Homo sapiens: one gene and its partners. The protein of the gene in region 1 interacts with the protein of each later gene in a pairwise test. Each region holds a gene or a part of one and is shown in the gene's direction. Other genes may lie near its edges.

What was found.
Region 2: the proteins of MRNIP (region 1) and EIF3E interact in binary tests that used the Homo sapiens proteins (3 or more experiments, as listed by UniProt).
Region 3: the proteins of MRNIP (region 1) and NUTF2 interact in binary tests that used the Homo sapiens proteins (3 or more experiments, as listed by UniProt).
Region 4: the proteins of MRNIP (region 1) and EFHC1 interact in binary tests that used the Homo sapiens proteins (3 or more experiments, as listed by UniProt).

What each region holds. Positions count from the first base shown.
Region 1 is NC_000005.10:179,850,862-179,858,331, reverse strand, and holds part of MRNIP (MRN complex-interacting protein), read left to right. Parts: intron 1-4,894; coding exon 4,895-4,954; intron 4,955-7,470. UniProt on the Homo sapiens protein: Plays a role in the cellular response to DNA damage and the maintenance of genome stability through its association with the MRN damage-sensing complex.
Region 2 is NC_000008.11:108,236,758-108,244,227, reverse strand, and holds part of EIF3E (eukaryotic translation initiation factor 3 subunit E), read left to right. Parts: intron 1-2,314; coding exon 2,315-2,429; intron 2,430-4,152; coding exon 4,153-4,270; intron 4,271-7,470. UniProt on the Homo sapiens protein: Component of the eukaryotic translation initiation factor 3 (eIF-3) complex, which is required for several steps in the initiation of protein synthesis.
Region 3 is NC_000016.10:67,861,964-67,869,433, forward strand, and holds part of NUTF2 (nuclear transport factor 2), read left to right. Parts: intron 1-3,138; 5' UTR 3,139-3,167; coding exon 3,168-3,266; intron 3,267-6,376; coding exon 6,377-6,448; intron 6,449-6,537; coding exon 6,538-6,636; intron 6,637-7,470. UniProt on the Homo sapiens protein: Mediates the import of GDP-bound RAN from the cytoplasm into the nucleus which is essential for the function of RAN in cargo receptor-mediated nucleocytoplasmic transport.
Region 4 is NC_000006.12:52,424,915-52,432,384, forward strand, and holds part of EFHC1 (EF-hand domain-containing protein 1), read left to right. Parts: intron 1-7,470. UniProt on the Homo sapiens protein: Microtubule inner protein (MIP) part of the dynein-decorated doublet microtubules (DMTs) in cilia axoneme, which is required for motile cilia beating.

The sequences.
Region 1 (7,470 bases):
CCCGCGCCTCTGCCGCCGTCCGTTTCCGCGGGGCCAGGGACTTGATATGGCTGTTCGCCGACGCATAAACCACGGGCCCCGGAGTCTTAAAGACAGATAATCTGTGTTTCTAGGACATATTTGCCTCCCTAACTTTCAGCGTGCCAGATAGAGAATGCCACTTAACCTTTTCCGGATCGCACCTGTCTCCCTGCTTGATATCACTTAACACTGCAGTCACCGTATCTGCTTCTGATAGTCCCTCCCTCCTAATTATTGGTAATCTGCTATGCCCTGAGAAAGAATAGCATCAGACTTCTTCTTCTTTTTTTTTTTTTTTTGAGACGGAGTTTCGCTCTTGTTGCCCAGGCTGGAGTGCAATGGCGCGATCTCGGCTCACCGCAACCTCCGCCTCCCAGGTTCAAGCAATTCTCCTGCCTCAGCCTCCCGAGTAGCTGGATTACAGGCATGCGCCACCATGCCCAGCTAATTTTGTGTTTTTAATAGAGACAGGGTTTCTCCATGTTGGTCAGGCCGGTCTCGAACTCCTGACCTCAGGTGACCCGCCTGCCTCGGCCTCCCAAAGTGCTGGGATTACAGGCGAGAGCCATTGTGCCCGGCGTGGATCAGACTTGTTTAAGAGGTATGTTAAAAAGTCAGCAAGATGCTGAGTATGTGTCTGTAAGCTTGCATTTAATGCTAAGCGTTTGTAAGGGCCATTTTAAGGGCTCAGAAACTTTTTACTTATTTTCTTTCGGGAGCTGGGTCCTAAGAGTTGCAAATAAAGGGAGATCATTTGCATTTTTAAATTATTCCACGTCTAATGTTTCATGCTGTTTTTTAAAAACAAATTTTCCGTTTATTTTTATTTCCTTTTTTTGTTTTTGAGACAGAGTCTCACGTCTCACTCTGTCGCCAGGCTGGAGTGCAGTAGCGTGATCTCGGCTCACTGCAACCTCCGCCTCCTGGGTTCAAGCGATTCTCCTGCTTCAGCCTCCCGAATAGCTTGGATTACAGGCGCGCGCCACCAAGCCCAGTTAATTTTTGTATTTTTAGTAGAGACGGGGTTTCACCATGTTGACCAGGAAGGTCTCCATCTCTTGACCTCGTGATCTGCCCGCCTCGGCCTCCGAAAGTGCTGGGATTACAGTGCTGGTGTTACGGGTGTGAGCCACTGCGCCCGGCCTCTATTTCCTTGTTTGTTTTCCTGTTTCACTCTTCCATGTTCACCAGTGTTATTTATTTATTTATTTACTTATTTATTTTGAGACAAGGTCTCGCTTTGTCGCCCAGATTGGAGTGCAGTGGTAACAATCACAGCTCGCTGCAACCTGCATCTCCCGGGCTCAGCTGATCCACCTCAGCCTCCCACGTAGCTGGTACTACAGGTGTGGGCCACCATCCCCAGCTAATTTTTATATTTTTTGTAGGAATGAGGTTTCGGCCGTGTTGCCCAGGCTGGTCTGGAACTCCTGGGCTCAAGTGTTCTTCCCGCCTTAGCTCCCAAAGTGCCGGGACTACGGGTGTGAGCCAGCGCCCCTGACCCTCGTGGTCATTTTCAACCTTATGAAATGTGAGTTGCTTGGCCCCGGTGGCTCACGCCCATAATCTCAGCACTTTGGGAAGCCCACTAGGGCAGATCACTTGAGCTCAGAAGTTCCAGAGCAGCCTGGGCAACGTAGCGAGACCTTGTCTCTACTAAAATTCAAAATAAAATAGCTAGATGTAGTGGCGCGCATCTGTAGTCCTAGCTACTCAGGGTCGCTGAGGCAGGAGAATCGCTTCAGTCCAGGAGGTAGAGGTTGCAGTGAGCCGTGTTCACACCACTGCACTCCAGCCTGGGCGACAGCCAGACCCTGTCTCAAAAACAAAGAAAAATTACTTGAAACCAAAGAGGACGGCAAGTCGGCTATGTACTACTTTAATTTTAATTGCAAGTCGGCTGTGTACTACTTTAACACGTTTAACTTCAACAACCTTTGACTTAGGCATCATTCCCATCTTAGAGACATGAGAATTCCGAAATACACGGGAATCAAGTGGTTTCTCCATCTAGGGAGTGGCAGAACCATACTATCTCAGCAGTTCCCACAATTAATTCCTTTACCAGGTTCTGTGAGTCCTAAACTTTTAAAAAGGCTTTTCTTGGCCGGGTGCGGTGGCTCACACCTGTAATCCCAGCACTTTGGGAGGCCGAGGGGGGCAGATCATGAGGTCAGGAGTTCGAGACCAGCCTGGGCAATGTTGTGAAACCCCGTCTCTACTAAAAATACAAAAAATACAGGTCGTGGTGGCGGGCACCTGTAATCGCAGCTACTTGGGAGGCTGAGGCAGGAGAATCACTTGAATCCAGGAGGCAGAGGTTGCAGTGAGCCGAGATCACGCCACAGTGCTCCAGCCTGGGCAACAGAGCCAGACTCTGTCTCAAAAAAAAAAAAAAAAAAACAACTTTTCTTACTTGTTTATATACTCATAGAAAATCCACAGTTTTATTGGTGTTTTAAGGTAGAAGCTGAGAAGTAAAATTGCTAAGTCATTACCCAGTTCAATTTTTGGTAGGTGCTCATTGTCCTCCTTAGAATCCTTTTGGATACTTCCCCCGAAAACCTCATGATTTTGTATTAGGATCATATTAATCGTATTAATGTTAATGGATCAACCTAGACATCTTTGTGGTGTTAAACATGATCCATTACGTTTCTTCAAGTAACCTTGGTATCCCTTGGTAACATTTTATTTGTTGCTGTTATAAATGGACTCTTTATCAATTATGTGTTCTAATTAGATGTCTGCTCATATAAAAGCTATATTAATTTTTGAAGGTATCTTAATTTTGTACCTAACCACTGTATTAGACTATCTGGTTTTAGTGGCTTCTCATTTCATTATGTTGGTTTTCGGATAAAAAATTATGTCAGGTAGCAGCCGGGCTGGTGGTTCATGCCTTTAATCCCAGCACTTTGGGTGGGTCACTTGAGGTCAGGAGTTCGAGACCAGCCTGACCAACATGATGAAACCCTGTCTCTGCTAAAACCACAAAGTTAGCCGGGCGTGGTGGCACGTGCCTGTAATCCCAGCTACTTGGGAGACTGAGGCAGGAGAATCTCTTGAACCTGGGAGGTGGAGGTTGCACTAAGCCGAGATCTCACCATTGCACTCCAGCCTGGGCAATAAGAGCGAAACTCCGTCTCAAAAAAATTAAAATTAAAATTAAAATTAAAAAATTGGCTTTTCTTTGGGAGGCCGAGGTCTGCAGATCATTTGAGGTCAGGAGTTATTTCAGGTATTATAATTATGTCTATAAATAATGATAGGGTTTTCCGCTCCTTTATAATTTTTATACATCTTACAACTTTCTTCTAATTCCATTGGCTAGTACATCCAGAAAAAAATGGTAAATAATAGCGGGCAACCCTGGCTTGTTCTTGACTTCCATGTGGAATGCTGGTAAAGATTCTCCAGCATTAGAGTGGGTTTTAGGCATTTTATATGTTAAGAGAGAACACATCTAGTCAGGTTTAACAAGAATTGAAAATAAATGTTACGGAATTTTTTTTAGACCCAAGTTTAACAAGAATTTAAATATTATGGAATTTTTTTTACAGCTTCAATTTGAGTCTTACGGAGTGTTTTTGTTTTGTTTGGATTTGGTTTTGCGAGACAGGAATATTATGGAATTTTTTTTTACAGCTTCAATTTGGGTCTTTCAGAGTGGTTTTGTTTTGTTTGGATTTGGTTTTGTGAGACAGCCTCTTGCCATGCTACCCGGGCTGGCCTCAAACTCCTGGGCTCGAGTAGTCTTGGCCTCCCTCGTCGCTGAGACTACAGGCTCAAGCCACTGTGCCCAGCCCAATTTGATTGTGTTTCATACAGATAGCCAGTTTTCCCAGCACCAACCCGGACTTGTTAAATAGTCTGTTCTTTTCTCACTTTTAAAGTACCACCTTTATGATTATGATACGCTAAATGTTTACACATGCTTTGGTTTGTTTCTGGACTCCTTCCATCAGTTTTTAAAATTATTTCAGGCCAGATCCAGCCCTGGTGGCTCACGCCTGTAATCCCAGCACTTTGGGAGGCCGAGGCGGGTGGATCACCAGGTCAGGAGATCGAGACCATCCTGGCCAACACGGTGAAACCCCGTCTCTACTAAAAATACAAAAAATTAGCCAGGCGTGGTGGCGGGCACCTGTAGTCCCAGCTACTCGGGAGGCTGACACAGGAGAATGGCGTGAACCCGGGAGGGGGAGCTTGCAGTGAGCCGAGATTGCGCCGCTGCACTCCAGCCTGGGCAGCAGAGCCAGACTCTGTCTCAAAAAAAAAAAAAAAAAAATTATTTCAGGCCAGGCATGGTGGCTCACACCTGTAATCCCAGCACTGTGGGAGGCCAAGGCAGGTGGATCACTTGAGGTCAGGAGTTTGAGAACAGCCTGGTCAACATGGTGAAACCCCATCTCTACTAAAATACAAAAATTAGCTGGGCGTGGTGGTACACACCTGTAATCCCAGCTACTTGGGATTTAAAAAAAAAAAATTTCAGATCCAATTCCATTTGTTTTTTGTTTGTTTGTTTGTTTTTTTGAGATGGAGTCTCACCCTGTCGTGTAGGCTGGAGTGCAGTGGTGCAATCTTGGCTCACTGCAACCTCCACCTCCCAGGTTTAAGCGATTCTCCTGTCTCAGCCTCCTGAGTAGCTGGGATTACAGGTGCCCGCCACCATGCCTGGCTAATTTTTGTATTTTTAGTAGAGACTGGGTTTCACCATATTGGTCAGGCTGGTCTCGAACTCCTGACCTTGTGATCTGCCCGCCTCGGCCTCCCAAAGGGGGATTACAGGCATGAGCCACCGAGTCCAGCCCAATTCCATTTTGTTTTAAATAATTATCTGAGTTGTATTTCTGAAATTTCATTGCAGGTAAAAAAGAGTGTCAAGTGGACATGCAAAGCTTGTGGAGAGAAGCAGTCCTTTTTGCAGGTGAGTCCTACAAAACAGAAAGCAAGTGGGGCGCAGGCCTGCAGCGAGCCCTTCCAGGGAGTCCCAGCATGCCACAGCTGGGATCATCCTCTCTCAAACAGAGTTCCCCAGACACGGAGCTCCTGCTTCCGAGCTTCCTGTTCCTTCAGGAAGTGAAATGGATGGAGCAGAATCTGGAAAGGTACTGCCATTTGATTCTTCATTCAGCAAGTATTTCTTGAGTACTTTCTGTGTGCCAAGCACAAGGGGAACAGTGGAAAGTAAGCCCATTGTCATTCTTGCCCTCACAGATGCACTTGTGTGGAAGGGGAAGAGAAACTAATGCACACATGCATCTGCATAATTTAAAACTCGGCTGAGCACAAGGAAAGGAAAGCACTGGGGACTGTGAGAAGATGACAGAGGAATCAGGGCAGCCGGGGAAGGGCAGAGGCCGTTGGTGGAGGTGGAGGTGTGGGATAGTGGGCTCAGGAAGTGGAGGCAGGCAGGGGCAGGCTGTAAATGCTCTCATCCAGCTGTTTGCAGCTGGCATTCAGTACGTCTTTTCAGTCCATCCGTATTGCCCCTCCTGAACTCTAGGACCCCAAACTGTCCTGCATCCTTTGCCTTACTGAACTTGCTCTTTTCCTGCTCCAGCCCCAGTGCCACCTCTCCCTTCACCTCTCATCTTTCCTCTCCTTCTACAGCCATGTGCTTTCTTTCTGACCTTAAACCCAAATTTGCTCCCTCTTCAGGCCTTTGTGCTCACTGTGGAGTTCCCCTCCCTCTTCTCAGTATCCTATGGAAGTTACATAGTCATGTGTTTATGCACGGATTGTCCATCTAAGGCTGTAAGTTCCGTGAGAACAGAGGCTTTTTATTTGCTGGTGTATCCGCAGCACCTAGCACAGTGCTCGGTGTTTGTGGAGTGAGTAAGGAACTGGCCCAACCTTGTTGGGCATTTAGGTTGATTTCCCTTTTGACTGTTATGCACAACTCTACCGTGAAGCTTTTCACAAAAACCTCTTTATCCACGTGACCAGCTGTTTACTGTTTACTTAGGACAAAGTCCTAAAAGTTAAATTGCTGTTTTTTGGGGTTTTTTTTTTTTTTGACATGGAGTCTCTCTCTGTCATGCAGGCTGGAGTGCAGTGGCGCAATCTCGGCTCACTGCAACCTTCGCCTCCCGGGTTTAAGCAGTTTTCCTGCCTCAGCCTCCTGAGTATCTGGGACTACAGATGCATGCCACCACACCCAGCTAATTTGTTTTTTGTATGTTTAATAGAGACGGGGTTTCACCATGTTGGCCAGGCTGGTCTTGAACTCCTGACCTCAAATGATCCACCTGCCTCCGTAGACAAAAACATTTCATAATGTTGGTGAGTGCCTTCACCTGATATTTTTTATTTTTTTATTTTTTTTTAGACGGAGTCTCGCTCTGTCACTCAGGCTGGAGTGCAGTGGTGCGATCTCGCTCACTGCAAGCTCCGCCCCCTGGGTTTACGCCATTCTCCTGCCTCAGCCTCCTGAGTAGCTGGGACCACAGGCTCCCACCACCACGCCCGGCTAATATTTTGTATTTTTAGTAGAGATGGGGTTTCACCATGTTAGCCAGGATGGTGTCAATCTCCTGACCTCGTGATCTGCCCACCTTGGCCTCCCAAAGTGCTGGGGTTACAGGCGTGAGCCACCGTGCCTGGCTGATATTTTTTTTAAAAAAGGGAAAAAAAACACTTCAGAATGGGTTCAGCAAAGTTAAAAAATAAATAAATAAATAAATAAAGTGCTGGCAAGGTAATGAGATCTCTTAGGGAATCCAAGGGCAGAACTTCATCCCCGGTCCCTTGAAAAACTAGCCCCAAGAACTGAAAAGCTGCCAACAAGCCAGACATCAGCTTTTCCTGCCCATCACCCAGCTTCTCCCTATATCTTTACTCTATTTTCTCCTCTCCTTCCCTTTCTGTTTCTCCCCAGACTGTTCAGTCAGATTCTCTGCTCCAAGTCCATAGAATCTCATTCCAAGCCAACTGGAAGAGCTGAGTCTCAATTATAAATTCCTAGGAGAAGCAACCTGGTTGGCCCAGGCTGACTCGGATGCCCACCTCTGGTCCAGTCAACTGGGATTGGGTCTCAGAAGAGAGGGGCTGGCTTACCAGGTAGGCAGACACCCCACATGGTGAGCATGGCTTGTTTGAGATGTATATATTTCTACATTCTCCTTGAGGAAGCCTTCTTACTCCCCTCAATGCCTCTGTGCTGTGTGTGGTATGTGGTGTATGGCTGACTAGGCCACAGTAACAAACACACCAAAATTGTGGTGGCTTAATACAATAGACGTTTCTCTTGCTCTCATAACAGTCCTGGGAAGATGATAAGGTCAGCAGGGCGCTGCCCTTGATGTGGTTGCTCAGGGATCCAAGCTCCTGCCATCTTGAGCTGCTTCTATTCCCTGAGGCTCATCTGTAGCTGCTTCTAGCCACTGTGCTTCTAGCCACTGAGAAGGGCAGGTGCTTGGAGGAGCTACCGAGAGGCTTTGA
Region 2 (7,470 bases), on another chromosome or scaffold:
CCAATTAAGTGAAATAATTTCTCTTGAAAAAGCATTCTATTCTTATTAATAGACCTGTATTACAAAAACTTTTACTGTTATTATTTCTGTTTCAAAATTTTTAAAAAATTGTGGAAATTTGATTCTCGTTTTTCATGTGAGTACTTATATAGTATTTTCAATTGTTGCTTCTTGATACAAAGTCTGAAGTATTTGCTTTCTGCTTATGAGGCAGAATTGAGAGGCATATGTAGATTTGAGAACAGGACAGTAACACCTGATGGTAGAGGAGCAAGGCTATTGAATCTATTGTGGAGAGAGACGTGGCAAATTAAAAGTTACTAGTGGAGTGGGGAGAGGTAGCGTGCTTGGAAAAGAATGTTTTTATTTAAGATTAGTGTTTCTATAGGGCAAAGTGATGAGAAGTTAAGGTTTTTTAGGTAAATTTTTTATCAGATATGACGTTCATTCATACAAGTACACAAATATAAATGTACTGGTCAATGATACATATTTTTTTCAAAATGAATAGCGAATACATTTATGTGACCACCACTCAGATTAATAAATAAAACATTACAGACATCCTTTTTTTTTTTTTTTTTTTTTTCTTTTTTTTTGAGACAGAGTCTTGCTCTGTGGCCCAGGCTGGAGTGCAGTGGCGCAATCTCGGCTCACTGCAAGTTCCACCTCCTGGGTTCACGTCATTCTCCTGCCTCAGCCTCCCGAGTAGCTGGGACTACAGGCGCCCACCACCACGCCCGGCTAATTTTTTGTATTTTTAGTAGAGACAGGGTTTCACCGTGTTAGCCAGGATGGTCTCGATCTCCTGACCTCGTGATCCGCCTGCCTCGGCCTCCCAAAGTGCTGGGATTACAGGCGTGAGCCACTGCGCCTGGCGACATCCTTAAACCTTCATCTTGACCCCTGTTAGTCACTACTCACACCCCCTAAAGGTAAGCTGTAGTCTGATGATTCATTTTGCCTGTTTTTGATTTTTATATAGGTGGAGTTAAGCATTTACCACCATGTACTGCTTTGTATGACATCTTTCACTCAGCATTGTTTGTGAGTCATCATGTTTTTAGGATAGCAGTAGTAGTTCATTGATTTTTCAGTGCCGAATGTTAATCTATTATGAGTATGCTGTGGTTTGTTTTCTCATTTTAACATTGATAGACTTGGCTATTACAAATAGTGCTCCTGTGTACATTTTTGGAAGTGCACTTTGACTATATGCACCCATTTGTTTTGGATGCCTCGAAACAATTGCTGGATCAAAAAGTATGTTTGGCTTTGGGAGATAAAAATCTTACAAAGTAGTTGTATTCCTGCCAGAAGAGAATAGGTTCCAGTTAGTCTACATCCACACCAACACTGGTATTGTCAGGATTTTTTAGGTTTTTATTGTAATTTTTAGTATGCATTTCCTTATGATTAATGACGTTGAGAACCTTTTCATGTGTCTGTTGGCCATTTGGTTGTCTTCTTTTGCGAAGTGCCTATCTTTTAGCCATTTCAATTGCAAGGTCTGTCTTGTCTTACTCATTTATAGGAGTTCTGCATGTAATTTGGAAGGTTCGATTTTGCTCTCATGGCTAAATACCCTTTGACCACCTTCATCTTTATTTTTTGTGGGCAGTGAAATATTGTGGCATTTTCTTGGATTTTTCTTTCCTTGCAAAATTAAGTTCAGTACAGAAATCTTTTCTTTTGCTGAAGCATTTCTGTCCGTGAATATTTTGTAGAATCTTTACATATTACTCAGTACACTTCATGTTGTTGTGAGTTTGTGTATATGTATCTATTTGCTCCCTGTACTATAGGTTAAATTATGCTTTTTTGGATCCTTTGCAAAGCAAAAGCCTGATCTGACATGGTTGACTTAAAAACTTGGTGCAGGTTGTTTCAGCAATGTGGATGGAGAAGCATATAGGAGTTTATTACTGATTACCTGGATGTGGAGAAGTGACAGCTATATGTGCTTTACAGGAAAGATGGCGTGGGTTTTATTTATACACAGCCTTGCCTAGAAAGGGTAAGAGATGGTTTGTAGGGACACATAAAAAATAAGGTCATGTAAATCAGAAGTAGGTGGGAATGTCTACAGTAATTCTCTTCATTTTAAAATTTTTAGGTAAGTAAAATACTTTTACGTCTATAGGTTGGTTGCTTGCCATATTGCTTGCCATTATTACAAGAGGGGAATGTTAATGGTTTATCGTATTTTATAAAGTATTTCTTGAAATATATTTCCAGGTAAATTAGTTTTAGTATTAATCAGTTTATTTGGGGAACTTAAATATATTCATTAGAAAGTTATCTTCTTTTGCAGATATATAATGAAAAGGAATTATTACAAGGTAAATTGGACCTTCTTAGTGATACCAACATGGTAGACTTTGCTATGGATGTATACAAAAACCTTTATTCTGATGATATTCCTCATGGTAAGTTTTGTCATTAGAACTGAAACTTGTCTTGTGACTTGAGGATGTGTGTATTAAAGTTTTATGATTTATAAGACAGCTTTAGCCAAAAGGCTTAAATATGATTTGAATGTTAATGTTCTTTGGGTGAGAGGTTATATAAAGGTTTCATATCTTCCGAAATATATTGTTTTCTCCCTGTGAAAGATGTGGAACTACTTTAAAATATGGTCATCAGATGCCTTCATTTCATAGTATGTATCATCAAAGTTGTGCTTATGATTCACATTCCTTAGAATTATCTGAGAATGTTGCAGTTCTTGGGTTGCTAACTTTTTCAGTTAGTGCATTGTGTGCCTTAGAGTTTTGTGTTTTTTTTTTTAATTTTGAGGCATCTAGTGTAGACATTGTTCTCCAAATATGGTCCCCAGGACCAGCATCATCAGTTCACCTGGGAGAGCTTGTTAGAAATGCAGGTTTTTGGCCACACACCAGACCTACTTAATCAAAACTGTTAAGTGGTCCTCTTAAGTTTGGGAAATAATTCTGTGTCATTTCTTCAATGCACATTACATTTTTAAAGGTTCCAAGAATTTTGGCAGTAGAGAAATACAGTATACTGTGATTAAATTGGCATTTCTCAAAATTTGATCATAGATCTTCTGTGTTTCAGAAAGACTGCTCTAGAATATACTTTCTAATATATAATACAGACATTATTACATTAAACATAATCCACATGTTTGACTTGTAGTTCCCTGCAATAACAGTATCTCTTTTTTAGTTTGTCATGGATAAACAAAAAGGAAACTATTTCTTAGTTTCTTTCTTTTTTTTTTTGAGATGGAGTCTCGCTGTGTTGCCCGGGCTGGAGTGCAGTGGTGCGATCTCGGCTCACTGTAAGCTCCGCCTCCCGGGTTCACGCCATTCTCCTGCCTCAGCCTCCCGAGTAGCTGGGACTACAGGTGCCCACCACCATGCCCAGCTAATTTTTGTATTTTTAGTAGAGACGGGGTTTCACCATATTGGCCAGGCTGGTCTTGAACTCCTGACCTCGTGATCAGCCCGCCTTGGCCTCCCAAGTTGCTGGGGTTACAGGCGTGCGCCCTTGCCCCTGGCCTATTTCTTAGTTTCTTAATGAAACATTAAGGTGTTACCAGAGTTGGTTATGTGCAAGTTTTCTCCACCTTTTCATAGTATAGTAAAAGGAACGATAGAATTTGGTTTGAGAGATTATAGAGCTGGATTTGTGGTTAAAAGAGATTATTTAATGGATTTAAATTCCATTCAACCTAGTTGATAACCTGTAATAGTAATATGTAAATCCCTCTGAGTTTTTCTTCAAAAACTCTGGGATAATATTCACCTAAGAAAATTAAATGAGAACAAATATAAAAACACTTGGAAAGAAGTTTCTGCAATGGAGAATTAAATGATAGATAATTGGGTCCTACCCTTTTTTTCTTTCACATCCCTCTGTCACCCCAAGGCTGTATATTCTCTAGTTTCCCTCAAGAGTAGGAAGAGGATTCCCTTTTCCTTTTTGTGCCTTTGTATTAGTAGAAAAAAGAAATTAGGGATCGGGGACATTTCTGACTGAGTAGCCCATGGCATATGAATATATTGGGGGTAAATAAATATATGTATAGTTTAAATACACTGAAAAATTTCCAGACATTCTCATGATGAGTAGCACAATTTAACATTCCTTAACATTGTAGTGCTCTTCTGCATTTTTAATTAGCTTTGAGAGAGAAAAGAACCACAGTGGTTGCACAACTGAAACAGCTTCAGGCAGAAACAGAACCAATTGTGAAGATGTTTGAAGATCCAGAAACTACAAGGCAAATGCAGTCAACCAGGTAAACTCGTCTTAATTTTGAATTCTAAAAATTCTCCTTTCTGGATTAATACAAATGTTAATTCAAACTTTATCCAGTATCCCATAGTAAAAGTTCATGGTTTAAATGAGTGCTTTATTCATTTTTAATTTTTGTTTATCCTTATTTTGTAGGGGCCAGTATAATTAATAAATGTTAATATTAACACTAAGTTTTTTTCCTAAAAAAAACTTCTTTAGTACTTATCTATACTGATTATACTACAGAAATTCCATCTCCTGTTTCCCCCTTCCTGGGGACATTTGGCAATGTCTGGAAATACTTTTTGGTTGTCATAACTGGAGGGGTGCTATAGGGACCTAGTGAGTAGAGGCCAGTTATGCTGTTAAACATCCTACAGTGCATAGGACAAGCACTGCTGCCGCTACTCCCCAACAAAGAATTATCCGACTGAAAATGTCCATTAAGAAACCCTGTTCCACTGTGTGGTGGCTCACACCTGTAATCTCAGCACTTGGGGAGGTGGAGGCAAGTGAATCCGTTGAGCCTAGGAGTTTGAGACCAGCCTGGGCAACATGGCGAAACCCTCTATCTTACCAAAAAATTAAAACCAATAAAAAGTTAGCCAGGTGTGGTGGTGTGCGCTTGTAGTCTCAGCTTACTTGCTACTTGGGAGGCTGAGGTCAGAGGATGGCTTGAGCCCGGGAGGCGGAGGTTGCAATGAGTCAGTGTCATAATACCACTGCATTCCAAAGTAGGTGACATAATGAGACACCATCTCAGGAAAAAATAAAAAAGAAACCCTGTGCTTGGGCAATACCTAGAACCTTAGAACACATGGGTATCTCGTTATAAGAGAAACCTGAGCTCACTTTATCCCTGGCTACATTCTTTCATACCCTTCCAAGCTCCATGCCCAAGGAGGGTAGTTTTGAGCTGATAAGATTATTTTATTCCTAACTTCCCTTTACCTACAAATAGACGTTACTGTTTCGTTTCCAAAGAAAACATATTGCCTTAGTCTGACGTAGTACATGTCACGGGTGGAAGTCTTTTGGGTTACTAGAAACATTTAAAAATAAAATCTCTTACTAAAATTGAATATTGTCATTTGAGATAAATCCTAGCTACCAGTAAATTCACTTGAGGAATTGCTGGATATTTTGCCGTGCTATACCTTTGATTTCTATGTATTTAAACCAAATTTTTAGAGATTGGCTCTTAAGTTTTCCTTTGTGATTTGTGAAGGTGTTACCAGATATTTTTAGAAAAGCAACAAATATACAATTACTGTGCCATACTATAGCGTACTATACTATACTATACCATACCATACTGTGACATATACTACATACAAATGCAGTTAGCTCTCTGTTCTGCATCTGTGGATTCAGCCAACTGCAGATTGAAAATATTCAGGGAAAGAAACTAAAAAATAACAATACTACAATAAAAAATACAAATAAAACTACAGTGTAACAACTAACAACTATATGATATTTACATTGCATTAAGTGTAAGTAATCTAGAGATGATTTAAAGTGGATGGGAGGATGTGTATAATTTACATGCAAATACTGTGCTATTTTACATAAGGGACTTTAGCACCTGCAGATTTTGGTATTTGAGGGGGCTCGTGAGTAGGGGGTAGGCAAGGTCTTGGAACTAATGCTCTGGGGATACCAAGGGATGACTATATGCGGGAAAACACACAGAGATATATACACACATCATGCGCATAGACAGAGCTATATATTATACTAAACTACTTTTATGCTTTTAGAAGAAGTAATTTTAGATCTTCAGGTCACATGTAGGTGATTACAAAGGGACAGCGGAAATAATCCAGATGTTAGACTACAACAGAAAATTTAGGATGCTGTAGTTTAGTCACTCAAAGACTGGGAAGTAATGGGATCAGAGCATGAATAAGATGAATGTACATGTGTTCACCAGTTAGAAAAAGAGGATCCTTGTAGCTTAATAGGTACTGAGTTTGAGATAAATGAAAGGATCATGTGTTAAAAACTTGTAATCTTATACTTACAGACTACCTATTTTCAATGTAAAAACCTTTTTCTGACAATTCACCCTTTTTAAATTTCATTGAATATATAGTATCGTACTTACACTTTCCCGGAAATAATCAGCCAGAGGACAGTGATTATATACGTGAGTGGTATGAGTAGTGCAATACAAAGTTATTCAGTGTGATCCACTGCAAATGTTCAGTTTTTGTTGAAGTTCTTCTATGTTGGAATTTCATGTACATTTCATAATCAGTATTGTAATACACCTATATTAATTTTTATGGGGACATATCTCTGCTCCATTAAATCTTCAAGCAAAATTGTGTTCCCAAAGACACATTATAGCATATTTCTTCTCATGAGAAGGATAAGAAAATGTTTTTGTTTTGGAAAATGCAGTCAGGTGCAGTAGCTCATGCCTGTAATCCCAGCACTTTGGGAGGCCAAGGTGGGTGGATCACTTGAGGTCAGGAGTATGAGACCAGCCCGGCCAGCGTGGTGAAACCTCATCTCTACTAAAAATACAAAAATTAGCTGGGCATGGTGGTGCACGCTTGTAATCCCAGCTACTTGGGAGGCTGAGGCAGGAGGATTGCATGAACCCGGGAGGCGGAGGTGGCAGTGAGCCGAGATTACACCAGTGAACTCCATCCGGAGTGACAGAGTGAGACTCCGTCTCAAAAAACAGTAACAACAAAAATGCTCATAAGGTGGGCAACTATACACATATATCCCCTGTCCCTTGATGTCTTTCTTTATTATTAGTTTGTCTTTTACTAGTCTGTCAACATCTCAAGATAATGCAAAGCTAATTTAAGAAAAATTAAATATGGCACTTGGTTATACCTAAGGATTGTGTAGGGTATGTAGCATAGCTGTCATGTATATCGGACATGATTTTTAAATTTTTATTTATTATTTTTTTTTGAGACAGAGTCTCACTCTGTCGCCCAGGCTGGAGTGCAGTGGTGCCATCTCTGTTCACTGCAACCTCCACCTCCCAGGTTCAAGCGATTCTCCTGCCTCAGCCTCCCAAGTAGCTGGGATTACAGGCACCCGCCACCATGCCTGGCTAATTTTTGTATTTTTAGTAGAGACTGGGTCTCACCATGTTTGCCAGGCTGGTCTTGAACTCCTGACCTCAGGAGATCCACCTGCCTCGGCCTCCCAAAGTGCTGGGATTACAGGTAT
Region 3 (7,470 bases), on another chromosome or scaffold:
GAGGGGACTTTCCTGTGTACAAAACATGGTGAGCAGGCTCTCGGTAGGTTCTGTTGTGTCTGTATGTAGCTGGATCGAGGTAGGAGGGAATGGCTTAGGGAGATGGGGATGAGGGTGGATGGCCACCTGTGGAGCTTAGGGAGTTTGGCCTTTAAGCCAAAAGCAAGGGTGTTTGTAGGGGAGGAGCATGGTCAGCTTTGTGGTTTAGAGCTCAGGGATGCAGAGTTAGCAGAAAAAAGAGACGGGCCTTGACCAGAGGACCCAGTGTCAGCACTGATGTACCAGGTGAGCTTAGGGCAAGACCCAGCGACATCACTGGATGACAGTGGATTCTGACTATGTGGCTGTTGTGATCACTACTTGGAAATAAACACAAGACAGTGAAGCAGGCCTCAATCCCACATAGTTTTGAAGGTTCCTTGTCATTTTCTGGGAGCCCCTGATGTGTCCTATTCCTCAGAGAGCTTACTCTTCCCCACTCTTCTCTGCCCTACCAGGCCAAAGGGTCTTTCTCTTCCTTTATCCCTCCACCCCATTTCCTTCCACCACCACTTCAGTCAAGGAGTTTTTGTATCAGAAAGTTATCACAGGCCAGTTATGGTGGTGCACGCCTGTAATCCCAGCACTTTGGGAGGCCAAGCTGGGTGGATCACTTGAGCTCAGGAGTTTGAGACCAGCCTGAGCAATATGGTGAAGCCTGGTCTCTACAGAAAACACAAAAAGCAGCCAGACGTGGTGGTGCTTGCCTGGAGTCTCAGCTCCTTGGGAGGTTGAAGTGGGAGGATTGCTTGAGTCCTGGAGGTCAAGGCTACAGGGAGATGAGATGGCATCACTGTACCCTGACCTGGGGGACAGAGCGAGACCCTTTTCATGCCCCGGGACATTTGCTGGTGCTGTTTCTTCTGGTTGGCATACCCTTTCTGAGGACTGCCCAACTTTGCTCTGAGCCAAGGGTAGAAGGAGATGTGGCCCTTATCCATTCCTCCAGCTTTTCCCCTACCCTCAGAGCTCTTAGGCAGTGGGTATGGCACCTTGGAAGCTGCAGCAGGGTCAGGGCACATTGAGTGACTAAGCATAGCAAGTACCAGGTGGACGGGGCAGAAATGCCAGAGGTGGGAGCTGTGCTCTGCCTTAGGTCCTCTAAGTTTGTGTGTGAGTACAGCCAGTGTCTGACCTCTTGGAAATGTGACCAAGACCACAGTGAAGACTAGATGATGGTCCTGTGCTTTCCCCACTTGTTGATTTCTTTCTTGGCAGAGTATGAACTAGGACACACCTTGTGTTCCTGTGTGGCAGGCGTGACTGGATCCAAGCTTTCTCCCCTGCTTGCTTTAGATTTTCCTGGACATTTCTTAGTCATCCCAGCACTGAGCTTCTATTTTTAGTGCCACTACCTCCTAGGGGACCTAAAATAAAGCTGGCTTAGCTTCCTGCTCCCTCATTGGCTTGAGTGTTGGTCACAGAGCGGAGGATTGGCTGCGTTCTCACTCTTTCCCTACACGATTCCTCCCCGCTGGCTCCTCTGGCTTTGGGCGAGGTCACACGGACTGGAGTGAGCTAGCACTTACCATGTTGAGCTGAGGGCTTTATCATGTTCCTTTAGAGAAGCTTCACAACCACCGGCACTGTCAGGTTGCCATCCCCATCTTATAGTGGAGGAGGCTGAGGCCCTAAGAAGGGCAGTGACTTGCATCAGATCCCACCACTGCGAATGCTTGTCTGCTGGGGTGGAACCCACCTCCTCACTGCTTTGGTTCAGAGTCCTATTATCAGGACAGAGGGAGTGGGCTCCTCTACAGTTGGGGCCATCCACAGAAAAACATGTGGGTCTGCAGTCAGGGGATCTGCAGCAAGATGTGGGCTTCCCTACTTGGAAGCAGCCTAGCAAAGCCCAAGCGGCTCTCCCATCTGGGGCTTGGGTTTTCCATCCAGTATCCTTACAGCCATGGTCTCTAGTTGGGAGGGGGCCTCCTCTCAGAGACCCGAGAGAGACAGCTCCTTAGGGTAAAAGCAATGCTGGGATGAGGGGATATGAAGGGATGACACGTTTCCCTTCACAGCCTCCATCCCCTCTTCCCACAACCCTCAGCTTTCCCTCTGATCCTTGAACTCATGTCCCCAGCTCTGAAGTGGGTAGGAGTCACTCCCATCAATGAAGAAATATCCTAGAAAGGGCCAGGTCAGGTAATCACCTGGCCTCGGGGAAGTAAACTGCCCCCATGAGACTAAGGGATCACTTGCTGTTTTTGGCAGAGGAGGGCCCTTGGCTGGGTACAGTGGCTCACGCCTGTAACCCCAGAACTTTGGGAGGCCAAGGCGGGTGGATCACTTGCAGTCTGGAGTTCGAGACCAGCCTGGCCAACATGGTGAAATCCCATTTCTACTAAAAATACAAATTAGCTGGGTGTGTTGGCAGGCGCCTGTAATCCCAGCTACTCTGGAGGCTGAGGCAAGAGAATCACTTGAGCCCAGGGAGCGGAGGTTGCAGTGAGCCAAGATCACGCCATTGCACTCCAGCCTGGGCAACAAGAGTGAAACTCTGTCTCAAAAAAAAAAAAAAAAAAAAAAAAGAAGAGGGGCCTTGAGAATCTCCCCACATCCTCACTGGGTCTTCCATCTGTCAGCGTAGCCCTGGGACAGTGTTGGGGGCCTGAGGGCTGTAGTACAAAATAGTACACACACACAGGTATCAGTTGTTCTTGGCTGTAAAGTGGGAAGAATAGCAATAACTCTGTCCTTGCAGGTTGTTGAGAGGATTACATGGAAAGATACTGGAGGAGTGCTTAACTCCTCCCATAAGGCCCCTCCCCTTACTGGGCTTTCAAGGGCCTGCTCTGACCTTTCTTTGTTGTAGATCTACCCTTAGCACCCCTCCTGTGTGCTCCACGACCCTATCATCTATGTGTCTCATCAACCAAGAACTCAAAGGAGAGGCTGGGTCTGATCTACCTCTGGGCTCCTAGCACTGGTCTGGCTTGGGAGGGGTCTCCTGCCAGTTCCCCAGGGCCTGTCCGTGTTCTCTGAGAGAACAGATCTCAGCAAAGGACTCCAGGAAGGCCAGTGAGGGGTGGGGGTCAGTGGCTGGTCACCTACTCTCATGGTACCAATGCTTCCCTCCTGGTCTCATTGGTCTTGCAGGTCTCCGTGAGGCCGGGTGACGCTCCAGAATGGGAGACAAGCCAATTTGGGAGCAGATTGGATCCAGCTTCATTCAACATTACTACCAGTTATTTGATAATGATAGAACCCAACTAGGCGCAATTTACGTAAGTTTCCAGCTCTAGGGCCAGAATGGACCCTAGGGGATCAATTTGGATGTTGGGCCAGTGTGTCCAGTTCACAAGTTCTGGCAGCCCTATCTGGACTGGCTACACCTCTGTATCTGAACTTTTGTCCACGGGACAGGGGTCTGACGCTTGGCCCAAGTAATTACCTGGTCTATACTTTTCCTTTTGTCAACTTCCACAAGAGTGAGAATCCTGCTGTTCTGGGCTTGCCATTCCATGTGGCCAGCATTTGTCATGGCACATGGTTTTGGATTGGGCAGCAACAGGCAGAGGTTAGGGCTCATGGTGCCCTCTGGAGGCAGCAGCCATGAGCATCCTCAGTGCAAAGCTGAGCTCTCTTGGAGGCCTGGGGTCCAGCTTCCTTTTGGATCCAAGGCTCCTGAATGCTCATGGAAAACAAATGAGGTTAGCCCAGGGAGGCTGATAGGTCATTTCACAAACCCTTCTATGCAGGCATTGCTGGCTGCTCTTTTTTTTTTTTTTTTTTGAGATGGAGTCTTGCTCTTTCGCCAGGCTGGAGTGCAATGGCTCGATCTCAGCTCACTGCAAGCTCCGCCTCCTGGGTTCAAGTGATTCTCCTGCCTCAGCCTCCCGAGTAGCTGGGATTACAGGCGCCTGCCCCCATGGCCAGTTAATTTTTTGTATTTTTAGTAGAGATGGGGTTTCACCATGTTGGCCAGGCTGGTCTCGAACTCCTGACCTCGTGATCCTCCCACCTTGGCCTTCCAACGTGCTGGGATTACAGGCGTGAGCCACTGCGCCCGGCATTTGCTGCTCTTTTAACGATGTTCATATACACCAAGAACTAATTGTACTTGACTCTGCCTGAGAGTCAGTCACAAAAATGTGATTGATCAGGCAGGTGAGCCCAGGATGGGGGTGTTAGGAGTAATCCAGGCACAGTCTCAGAGCCTGATTGGGCTGACTCTCCACAGTCTTCTGTGTCTGTCTCCAGAAAGTCAGTGTCCATTCAGAAATTTTGGAAAAAATAATGAAATTTTATTAGTGGAAGACCAATTCCAGCACAGATATTTGATTGTCATTATCATAGTAGAGTTTTTTTTTTTTTTTTTTGAGACAGAGTCTCACTCTGTCAACAAAGCTGGTGTGCAGTGGGGTGATCTCAGCTCACTGCAACTTCTGCCTCCTGGGTTCAAGCGATTCTTGTGCCTAGCCTCAGGAGTAGCTGAGGCTACAGGCATGCACCACCAAGCCTAATTTTTTTTTTTTCTTGAGATGCAGTCTCACTCTGTCGCCCAGGCTGGAGTGCAGTGGTGCAATCTTGGCTCACTGCAATGTCCATCTCCTGGGTTCAAGCTATTCTCCCATCTCAGCCTCCCAAGTATCTGGGACTACAGGCACGTGTTGCCATGCCCGGCTAATTTTTGTATTTTTTAGTAGAGATGGGATTTCACCATGTTGGCCAGGCTGTTCTTGAACTCCTGACCTCAGGTGATTTGCCTGCCTCAGCTTCCCAAAGTGCTGGGATTACAGGCATAAGCCACCGCGCCCGGCTACACCTAATTTTTGTATTTTTAGTGGAGGTGACATTTCACCATGTTGGCTAGGCTAGTCTCCAACTCCTGACCTCAGGTGATCTGCCTGCCTTGGCTTCCCAAAGTGCTGGGATTACAGGTGTGAGTTACCATGCCCAGCATAGAGTTTTTGAAACCTTGAAGTGATCTGACCTGAGATCCTGGCACTTGTGCCTCATTATCACTCTCCCTTTTTTTTTTTTTGAGATGGAGTCTCACTCTGTCACCTAGACTGGAGTGCATTCATGCGATTTTGGCTCACTGCATCCTCTGCCTCCCAGGTTCAAGCAATTCTCATGCCTCAGCCTCCCAAGTAGCTGGGGTTACAGGCACGCACCACCATGCCCAGCTAATTTTTGTATTTTTAGGAGAGACGGGGTTTCACCATGTTGGCCAGGCTGGTCTGGAACACCTGACTTCAAGTGATCTACCCACCTTGGCCTCCCAAAGTGCTGGGATTACAGGTGTGAGCCACTGCACCTGGCCTCATTATCTCTTAAAGCAGGCCTGAGCCAGAGAAGAGAGTTAGCAAGGTCCTAAAAGAACAATTTATATTTATTATTTCATAATACTCAGCACATTACCCCTTTGAAGGTTAGGAAACTAAGACTCAGAGAAATAACTTACTTAATGTCACAGCTAGTAAGCAGCAGAAGCCCTTTTGAGTTCTGCCCTTGAAGGCTGTGGAAGGGAAGATTTGAGGTGGAACTAAGCTAAGTGGGTTACATTTGAGATTTTGCTTCTTGGTGGTAGGGAGGGTCCCAGACTAGGCCTTGGAAGGCCCTGTCAGCCTCTATCTCTCCCTGACCCCATGGGTATCCAGAAGGCTAGCTAGAAAGTCCACAGTGGAACTTAGCCTCGGCCCTGGAGGGTGATGAATGTGGAATTTTTCCAAGTTATTTCTGATGACTTTTTTTTTGAGATGGAGTCTTGCTCTGTCACCCAGGCTGGAGTGCAGTGGTGCGATTTCGGCTCGCTACAAACCGCCGCCTCCTGGGTTCAAGCAATTCTCCTGCCTCAGCCTCCTAAGTAGCTGGGATTACAGGCGTGCGCCACCATGCCTGGATAATTTTTGCATTTTTAGTAGAGTTGGGGTTTCACCATGTTGGTCAGGCTGGTCTCGATGTCCTGACCTCGTGATCTTCCCGCCTTGGCTTCCCAAAGTTCTGGGATTACAGGCGTGAGCCACCGTGCCTGGCCACATTTCTGATGACCTTTTGGGACTGACACTGACTGACCACACAGCAGGATGGCTGAGCTCAGGCCAATATAGCCCTCCTGGGCCTATGCATATCAGAGACCATATGACTTCTTAAATACAAATGGGAAGTATATTTTATTAAATAGTCTTTCAAAGCCTGGGCCCAGGGTCAATGGGGTAGAAGATGTTGATAGTGTAATGTTTGGGGGCTATACTCAGTCTCCTTCTTTAGACAGGGAAACTGAAGTGTGGCCACACTTCTCCAAGCAAGGCCCTTTTCAGAGTCTTTCCAGGGCCTTAGAGATACTTGTACTCTGAGGCCCCAACCCTGGGGTTTCCTGTGCCTTTTTCAGATTGACGCGTCATGCCTTACGTGGGAAGGACAACAGTTCCAGGGGAAAGCTGCCATTGTGGAGAAGTTGTCTGTAAGTAGGGAAGAAAGCCAGGGTGCAGGTGGCTCCTTTCCCACCCCTTCTGGCCTTGGTTCTCCCACCTCCCACTCTCTCTCTTGTAGAGCCTTCCGTTCCAGAAAATTCAGCACAGCATCACCGCGCAGGACCATCAGCCCACTCCAGATAGCTGCATCATCAGCATGGTTGTGGGCCAGCTTAAGGTAATGGTACTGCCACAGTGGTAGGGAGGGGTGGGCAGGCAGAGGAGAGTCTTGTACCCCTGCTTTCCCTGTGGATGTGACCTGCTTATCTAGGGACACCCAGACAAAGTGACTGTCTAGAGCTGCGTAGTTCAGTATGCTAGCCATTAGCCACATGTAGGTGGCAATTTTTAAGTTATATTAATTAAGATTAAATAAAATGTACTTCTTCGGTTGTACTAGCCATATAGAACATTTTTGTGACTGTAGAAAGTCCTATTGGCAGACACTGGTCTAGAGCCTTTATCTGGAAAAGGGAGAAGTATAGGAGTAGGATGGGACTGGGGTGCCAAGCCACTAGGCTCCCACTCTGCCCTAAGGTCAAGGTGGACAGGCTAGCTGGGTGCGGAGAGGCAGTCCACTCCTGCAGCCCTTGCTACCACTCCTCAGGCTGGCTGCTGGCTCCTTGCCTGCTGAGCAAAGCAGATTCCTGGAACTCCTATTTCTTTTTTTTTTTTTTTTTGAGACGGAGTCTCACTCTTGTTGCTTAGGCTGGAATGCAGTGGCACAATCTCAGCTCACTACACTTCTGCCTTCCGAGTTCAAGCAATTCTCCAGCCTCAGCTTCCCAAGTAGCTGGGATTACAGCTGCCCGCCACCACACCCAGATAATTTTTTGTATTTTTAGTAGAGACAGGGTTTCACTATGTTGGCCAGGCTGGTCTTGAACTCCTGACCTCAGGTGATCCACCTGCCTCGGCCTCCCAAAGTGCTGGGATTATAGGCGTGAGCCACCTATTTCTCTTTGCATTTTCCTTCCTCCTTCTCAAGACCTATTATTCTCAGAGACTTCCT
Region 4 (7,470 bases), on another chromosome or scaffold:
TGATCAGTTTTGATAAGTTAGCTTTCTTAATTTACTCTTAGTCTGTTTCTTTTCTTGTCTTAATTTTTATTTTATTATTCCTGTTAAATGTCTATAACATTTTCATCCAGCCAGCCAACTTTTATTGAGTACCTGTTGTAAGCTAGAGGCTGGGGAGGAGCTATGCCATTTACATGATAGTCACTTATTTTTAAACAATTTCAGTCTCTCAACTAGAATCTGTATCATTTCCTCTTCCCCACTTAACTCATTTATAGGGACACATTCACATATGCATTCATAGGCCGAACCTAAACATCCACTAAACAGTATGATTTATATAATTGGATGTATCTTTTCCTTTTGCTTGTTTCTTTTGTTTATTTGTGGCTTTGACAGACATTGCAAAATCAGCAGAGAAGGGAGAGGGCTGAAAATACAAGAGAGAAGTGGGATAGGCACTAAATAATTACCAAGATATGAATCCTGGTATGTTTAATTTTTACTGAAAAGAATAGTAAGTAACTGTTATAAAGTAGAAGGTGATAAAGTGATATATGTCGTAAGAAAGTATTAGTAAAATTCAGAGGAGAAATTGCGCTTGAGTAGGAAATAGGCTTCCTATTTTTTGTTTTCTATGTTATTTTACACTAATTGTTGTTACTTAATTTGTACTTATTTAATATTCATAATTCATTTCTTTAAGGATAGTGCACATAAAAATATTATTTTTATTTTCCAATTCATTTTACTTGGATCATCACAATTTCTAGATAAATGAGCCTTAGCATAGATAATGGGGTAGAGAGAAGCTAAATGCATGACTTTGAAACTAAGTTTGTTTGTTTATAATAAGGGAATTATGGTTTCTCTGAATTAAATGAAGGTTCTAATTTTAAATGAAGGACCTCTAATACCCAGAGGTCCACATAATAGCCAACATATTTGTCTATATTTTGGAAATTCTTAGGACTGTTCCTCATAGACAGAATATAACTTCATTTCTTACTTAGGTAATAAAGACCAGGACATCTATTCCAAGTGCCCTCATCTTTTCCCCTTGCTCCTGTATAATTCCAGCATCACCTACTATATTGTGTTTCCCAGACTGACTTCCAGCTCTTTATTTCTGATGTTCTTCTTTCATCTTTTTCATCTTCAAGTTTCATATTATTTCTATTTCAGACACTCTAGTGACTGCTTCTCTAGCTAGAGTCATATCATCCTGTCCTCTTTCTATAATACCTTGTGATGCCTTTAAGCAAGATAACTTTGTTTCTCACTTGACTGTCAAATCACTTACAATCTGACTTCTCCCTACCCACAGCCCCAGAATACTTTCTCCTAGGTAGCCAGTGCTGTCCTTTTACCAGATCTAGAGAGGTTTACTTTGCCAGCATTGTCTTTGGCTTGTTTATGCCATCTGACACTGTTGACCCTTCCTCCCTTCTTGAAACTGTGCTCTTCTTTTGCCTCCATGACTCTCATTTTCCTCCTTCTTTCTATGTGGTTGCTTATTCTTTAGCCTCCCTTCCTCTTTTCAATTCTTAACTTACAAGTATTTTCAAGGCTCTATCTCATTCTTTATATAATTTTCTTGAGATCTCACCCACTTTCGTGATTTCAACCGTCACCTCACCGTAGAGAATGTCACTATTTAGTTCCAACTCTGACATCATTGAGACTCCAGATCTGTATCCCCCTGGCCCATGGGATATCTTCACCTGGATGAACTGTTGGTACCTCAAGTTCTGTATGTCTCTAACTTATCTCTATCCCTCACCTTTTCCCATAGATCTGCTTTCCCTGTGTGGTTCCACTAGGTAATCCAAGCTTGAAACCTGAGCCATCTTTGGCTTTTTCTCTCCTTTATCCTCCACACTTAATGAGTTGCCAAGTCAAATATCTCTCACTTTCATTTCCTCTGCCACTATCATAGTTCAGACAAGCCAAATGACTACCTAACTGTTGTTTTAGTCTCATTCCTAGTCCTTATGCTTATAACAGGTATGCTGCCTTGTTTATTCTCTAGAGTTCAGCTCTGATTATGTCATTTTTCTGGGAAAATGCCATCAGGCTTTCTTAACCAATACAGTAAACATTACCACCATTCACCTCACTGTGACATGAAAGTCATCTTTCATTCTTCTTTCCCCTCACAATCCACATCTAATCTATTAGCAAGTTCTATTGTTTCTGCTTCTAAAATATGTAACTAATTCATTTACTTATTTTCATCCTCACTATTACCATAAATTTATTTTCCACAGAGCAGCCAGGCTTATTTTTTGAAAATCAGATTATGTCACATACTGACTGAAACACTTCCATGGCTTCCCTATCATCTATAAAGATCCAACTCTACAGGTTCCTCACAGCCCTACTGGAGCTGGCCCTCCCTGCTCTCTCCCCAGCCTCATCTTGGGTCCTTTTTCTCACCTATCATGTTTCAATACATTGGATTTATTTTTACTGATTTCCTTGAAATGGCAGCATTTGAAAATTCCAATTCAGGGCCTTTTTGTACATGGCATTTCTCCTATCTGAAATAGCTTCCCCACCATCCTTAAGTGGCTGACTCCATCTTTCCTTTCAGTGAGGCTTTTCCTGGCCACTCTGCTATGGCAGTTCCTCCTCATTTTTCTATATCACTTCCCTCTCTTTTTTTTTTTTCCCCTTTGCAGCACTATATTATAATTTGTGTTGCTGATTTGTTTAGTGTTTATCTGTCCCACCTGAGTGTATACTTCATGAAGGTAAGGACTTATATAGTTTATTATATATTTAGTGCTCAATAAATATCAGTTCTAAAATGACATGAATAATTAACAAAATTTATTTCTTGTCTGTGTCACTGCTGAAAATTGGCAAGTCAAACACGTACCATATATGCTTATAATAATGTAAAATTAAAAATGTGACTTGGCTTTTTATAATTGTGTGTGATATGAAAATATTTATGCAGCATTTCCCCCCTTCATCTTGAAGTAAATACAAATATTTTTATGTTTATTGTGGCATTCTGAGCACTTCCTGGGAGTTAGAAGACCTGGATTCTAATTCTGGGTCTCCTACCAGCTAACATTGTGACCTTGTAGTCACAATCTCTAATTTCCTCGTCTATAAACTCAGAAGGTTAGAATACATGATAATCAGGAGCCCAGCCTGCTATAAAATTCCATGAAAAGTATATTTTTAAACACAGTATTTAAATATAATTTTTCTTTTCTTTCTACGTAACAATCAAGTTCTTATTCTACCTGGGAAAGCTGATGTTATCCCACTACTTTAAAAACAATTTTTTTTATTTCCATAGGTTACTGGGGAACAGGTCGTGTTTGGTTACATGAGTAAGTTCTATAGTGGTGATTTGTGAGATTTTGGTGCACCCATCACCCAGGCAGTATACAGTGCCCCCAATTTGTAGTCTTTTATCCCTCACCCCCTTCCCACCCTTTCCCCCTGAGTCCCCAAAGTTCATTGTGTCATTCTTATGCCTTTGCATCCTCATACCTTAGCTACCACTTATGAGTGAGAACATACAATGTTTGGTTTTCTATTCCTGAGTTACTTCACTTAGAATAATAGTCTCCAGTCTCATCCAAGTCACTGTGAATGCTATTAATTCATTCCTTTTTATGGCTAAATAGTATTCCATCATATATATCACATTTTCTTTGTCCACTTATTGATTGATGGGTATTTGGGTTGGTTCCATATTTTTGCAGTTGCAAATTGTGCTGCTATAAACATGCATGTACAAGTATCTTTTTTGTATGATGAGTTCTTTTCCAATGGGTAGATACCCAGTAGTGGGATTGCTGGATCAAATGGTGGTTCTACTTTTAGTTCTTTGAGGAATCTTCACACTTTTAGTTCTTTAAGGAATCTTCCATAGTGGTTGTACTAGTTTACATTCCCACCAGCAGTTCCCAGTTCATTGCATCCACACCAACATCTAATATTTTATGATGTTTTGATTATGGCCATTCTTGCAGGACTAAGATGATATCACATTGTGGTTTTGATTTACATTTCCCTGATCATTAGTGATGTTGAACATTTTTTCATATGTTTGTTGGCCATTTGTATATCTTCTTTTGAGAATTGTCTATTCATGTCCTTAGCCCACTTTTTGATGGGCTTCTTTGTTTTTCCTTGCTAATTTGTTTGAGTTCATTGTAAATTCTGGATATTAATCTTTTGTCAGATGTATAGATTATGAAGATTTTTTCCCACTCTGTGGGTTGTCTGTTTACTCTGTTGACTGTTCCTTTTGCCGTGAAAAAGCTCTTTAGGTTAATTAAGTCCCAGCTATATATCTTTGTTTTTATTGCATTTGCTTTTGGGTTCTTGGTCATGAAACCCTTGCCTAAGCCAATGTCTAGAAGAGGTTTTCCAATGTTATTTTCTAGAATTTTTATAGTTTCAGGTCTTAGATTTAAGTCCTTGATCCATCTTGAGTTGATTTTTATATAAGGTGAGAGATGAGGATCCAGTTTTATTCTCCTACTTGTGGCTTGCCAATTATCCCAGCACAATTTGTTGAATAGGGTGTCCTTTCCTCACTTTATGTTTTTGTTTGCTTTGTCAAAGATCAGTTGGCTGTAAGTATTTGGCTTTATTTCTGGGCTCTCTGTTCTATTCCATTGGTCTATGTGCCTATTTTTATACCAGTACCATGCTGTTTTGGTAACTATGGTCTTATAGTATAGTTTGAAATCAGGTAGTGTGATGCCTCCAGGTTTATTCTTTTTGCTTATTCTTGCTTTGGCTATGCGGGCTCTTTTTAGGTTCTATATGAAGTTTAGGATTGTTTTTTCTAATTCTGTGAAGAATGATAGTGGTATTTTGATGGGAATTGCATTGAATTTTTAGATTGCTTTTGGCAGTATGGTCATTTTCACAATGTTGATTCCCACCCTATCAGCATGGAATGTGTTTCCATTATTTGTTTCATTATTTGTGTCATCTGTTATTTCTTTCAGCAGTGTTTTGTAGTTTTCCTTGTAGAGGTCTTTCACCTCCTTGGTTATGTATATTTCTAAGTTTTTGTTTGTTTGTTTGTTTTTCAGCTATTGTAAAAGGGGTTGAGTTCTTGATTTGATTCTCAGCTTGGTCGCTGTTGGTGTAAAGAAGAGCTACTGATATGTGTATATTAATTTTGTATCCAGAAACTTCGCTGAATTCTTTTATCAGTTCTAGGAGCTTTCTGGAGGAGTCTTTAGGATTTTCCAGGTAAACAATCATATCATCAGTGAACAGTGACAGTTTGACTTCTTTACCTATTTGGATGACCTTTATTTCTTTCTGTTGTCTGATTGCTCTGCCTAGGACTTCTTCTAGTACTGTGCTGAAGAGGAGTGGAGAGAGTGGGCATCCTTATGTTGTCCCAGTTCTCAGAGGGAATGCTTTCAACTTTTCCCCATTCAGCATTATGTTGGCTGTGGGTCTGTCATAGATGGCTTTTATTACATTGAGGTATGTCCCTTGTATCAATTTTGCTGAGAATTTTAATCAGAAAGGGGTACTAGATTTTGTTGATTGCTTTTTCTGCATCTATTGAGATGATCGTGTGATTTTTGTTTTTAATTCTGTTTATGTGGTGTATCACATTTATTGACTTGCGTATGTTAAATCATCCCTGCATCCCTGGTATGAAAACCACTTAATCGTGGTGGATTATCTTTTTCATATGTTGTTGAATTCGGTTAGCTAGTATTTTGTTAAGGATTTTAGCATCTATGTTCATCAGGGATATCAGTCTATAGTTTTATTTTTTGGTTATGTCCTTTCCTGGTTTTGGTATTAGGGTGATACTGCCTTCATAGAATGATTTATGGAGGATTCCCTCTTTCTCTATCTTGTAGAATAGTGCCAATAGTACCAGTTTTTCTTTGAATATCTGGTAGAATTCTTCTGTGAATCTGTCTGGTCCTGGACTTTTTCCTGCTGGTAGTTTTTTAATTATTTCAGTCTTGCTGCTTGTTGTTGGTCTGTTCAGGGTATCTAATTCTACCTGAATTAAGCTAGCAGGGTTTTATCTTTCAGGAATTTATCTATCTACTCTAGTTTTCTAGTTTATGTGCGTAAAGGTGTTCATAGTAGCCTTGAATGACCTTTTGTATTTCTGTGGTGTCAGTTGTAATATCTTCCATTTTGTTTCTAATTGAGCTTATTGGATTTTCTCTCTTCTTTTCTTGGTTAATCTTGCTAATGGTCTATCAATTTTATGTAGCTTTTCAAAGAACCAGCTTTTTGTTTCATTTATCTTTTGTTTTTTTTGTTTGTTTATTTCAATTTCATTTGTTTCTGCTTTGATCTTGGTTATTTTCTTTCTTCTGCTGGGTTTGGGTTTGGTTTGTTCTTGTTTTTCTAGTTCCTTGAGGTGTGGCCTTAGATTGTCTGTTAGTGCTCTTTCAGACTTTTTGATGTAGGCGTTTTGGGGTTTGAACTTTTCTCTTAGCACTGCCTTTGCTGTATCCCAGAGGCTTTGATAGGTTGTGTCATTATTGTCATTCAGTTCGAATGATTGTTTAATTTCCATCTTGATTTTATTTTTGACCCAAAGCTCACTTAGGAGCAGGTTATTTAATTTCCATGTATTTGCATGGTTTTGAAGGTTCCTTTTGGAGTTGACGTCCAATTTTATTCCACTATGGTCTGAGAGAGTGCTTGATATAATTTCAATTTTCTTAAATTTATTGAGGCTAATTTTGTGGCCTATCATATGGTCTGTCTTGGAGAAAGTTCTATGCGCTGTTGAATAGAATGTATATTCTGCGGTTGTTGGGTAGAATGTTTTGTAAATATATTAAGTCCATTTGTTCCAGGGTATAGTTTAAATCCATTGTTTCTTTGTTGACTTTCTGTCTTGGCCTGGCTAGTGCTATCAGTGGAGTATTGAAGTCCCCCCCTATTATTATGTTGCTGTCTATCTCATTTCTTAGGTCTATTAGTAATTGTTTTATAAATTGGGTGCTCCAGTGTTAGGTGCATATATATTTAGGATTATGACATTTTCCTGTTGGACAGGTCTTTTATCATTATATAATGTCCCTCTTTGTCTTTTTTAATTGCTGTTGCTTTAAAGTTTGTTTTGTCTGATACAAGAATAGCCACTCCTGCTCACTTTTGGTGTCCATTTGCATGGAGTTTCTTTATCCACCCCTTTACCTTAAATTTACATGAGTCCTTATGTATTAGGTGAGTCTCTTGAAGGCAGCAGATGGTTGGTGAATTCTTATCCATTCTGCGATTCTGTATCTTTTAATTGGAGCATTTAGGCTATTTACATTCAACATTAGTATTAAGATGTGAGATACCATTCTGTTCATCGTGGTATTTGTTGTCTGTATACCTGGATTTTTTGTTTTTTGTTTTTAATTGTATTTTTGTTTTATAGGTCCTGTGAGATTTATGCTTTAAAGAGGTTCTGTTTTGATGTGTTTTGATTTGTTTCAAGATTCAGAGCTCTTTTTAGCAGTTCTT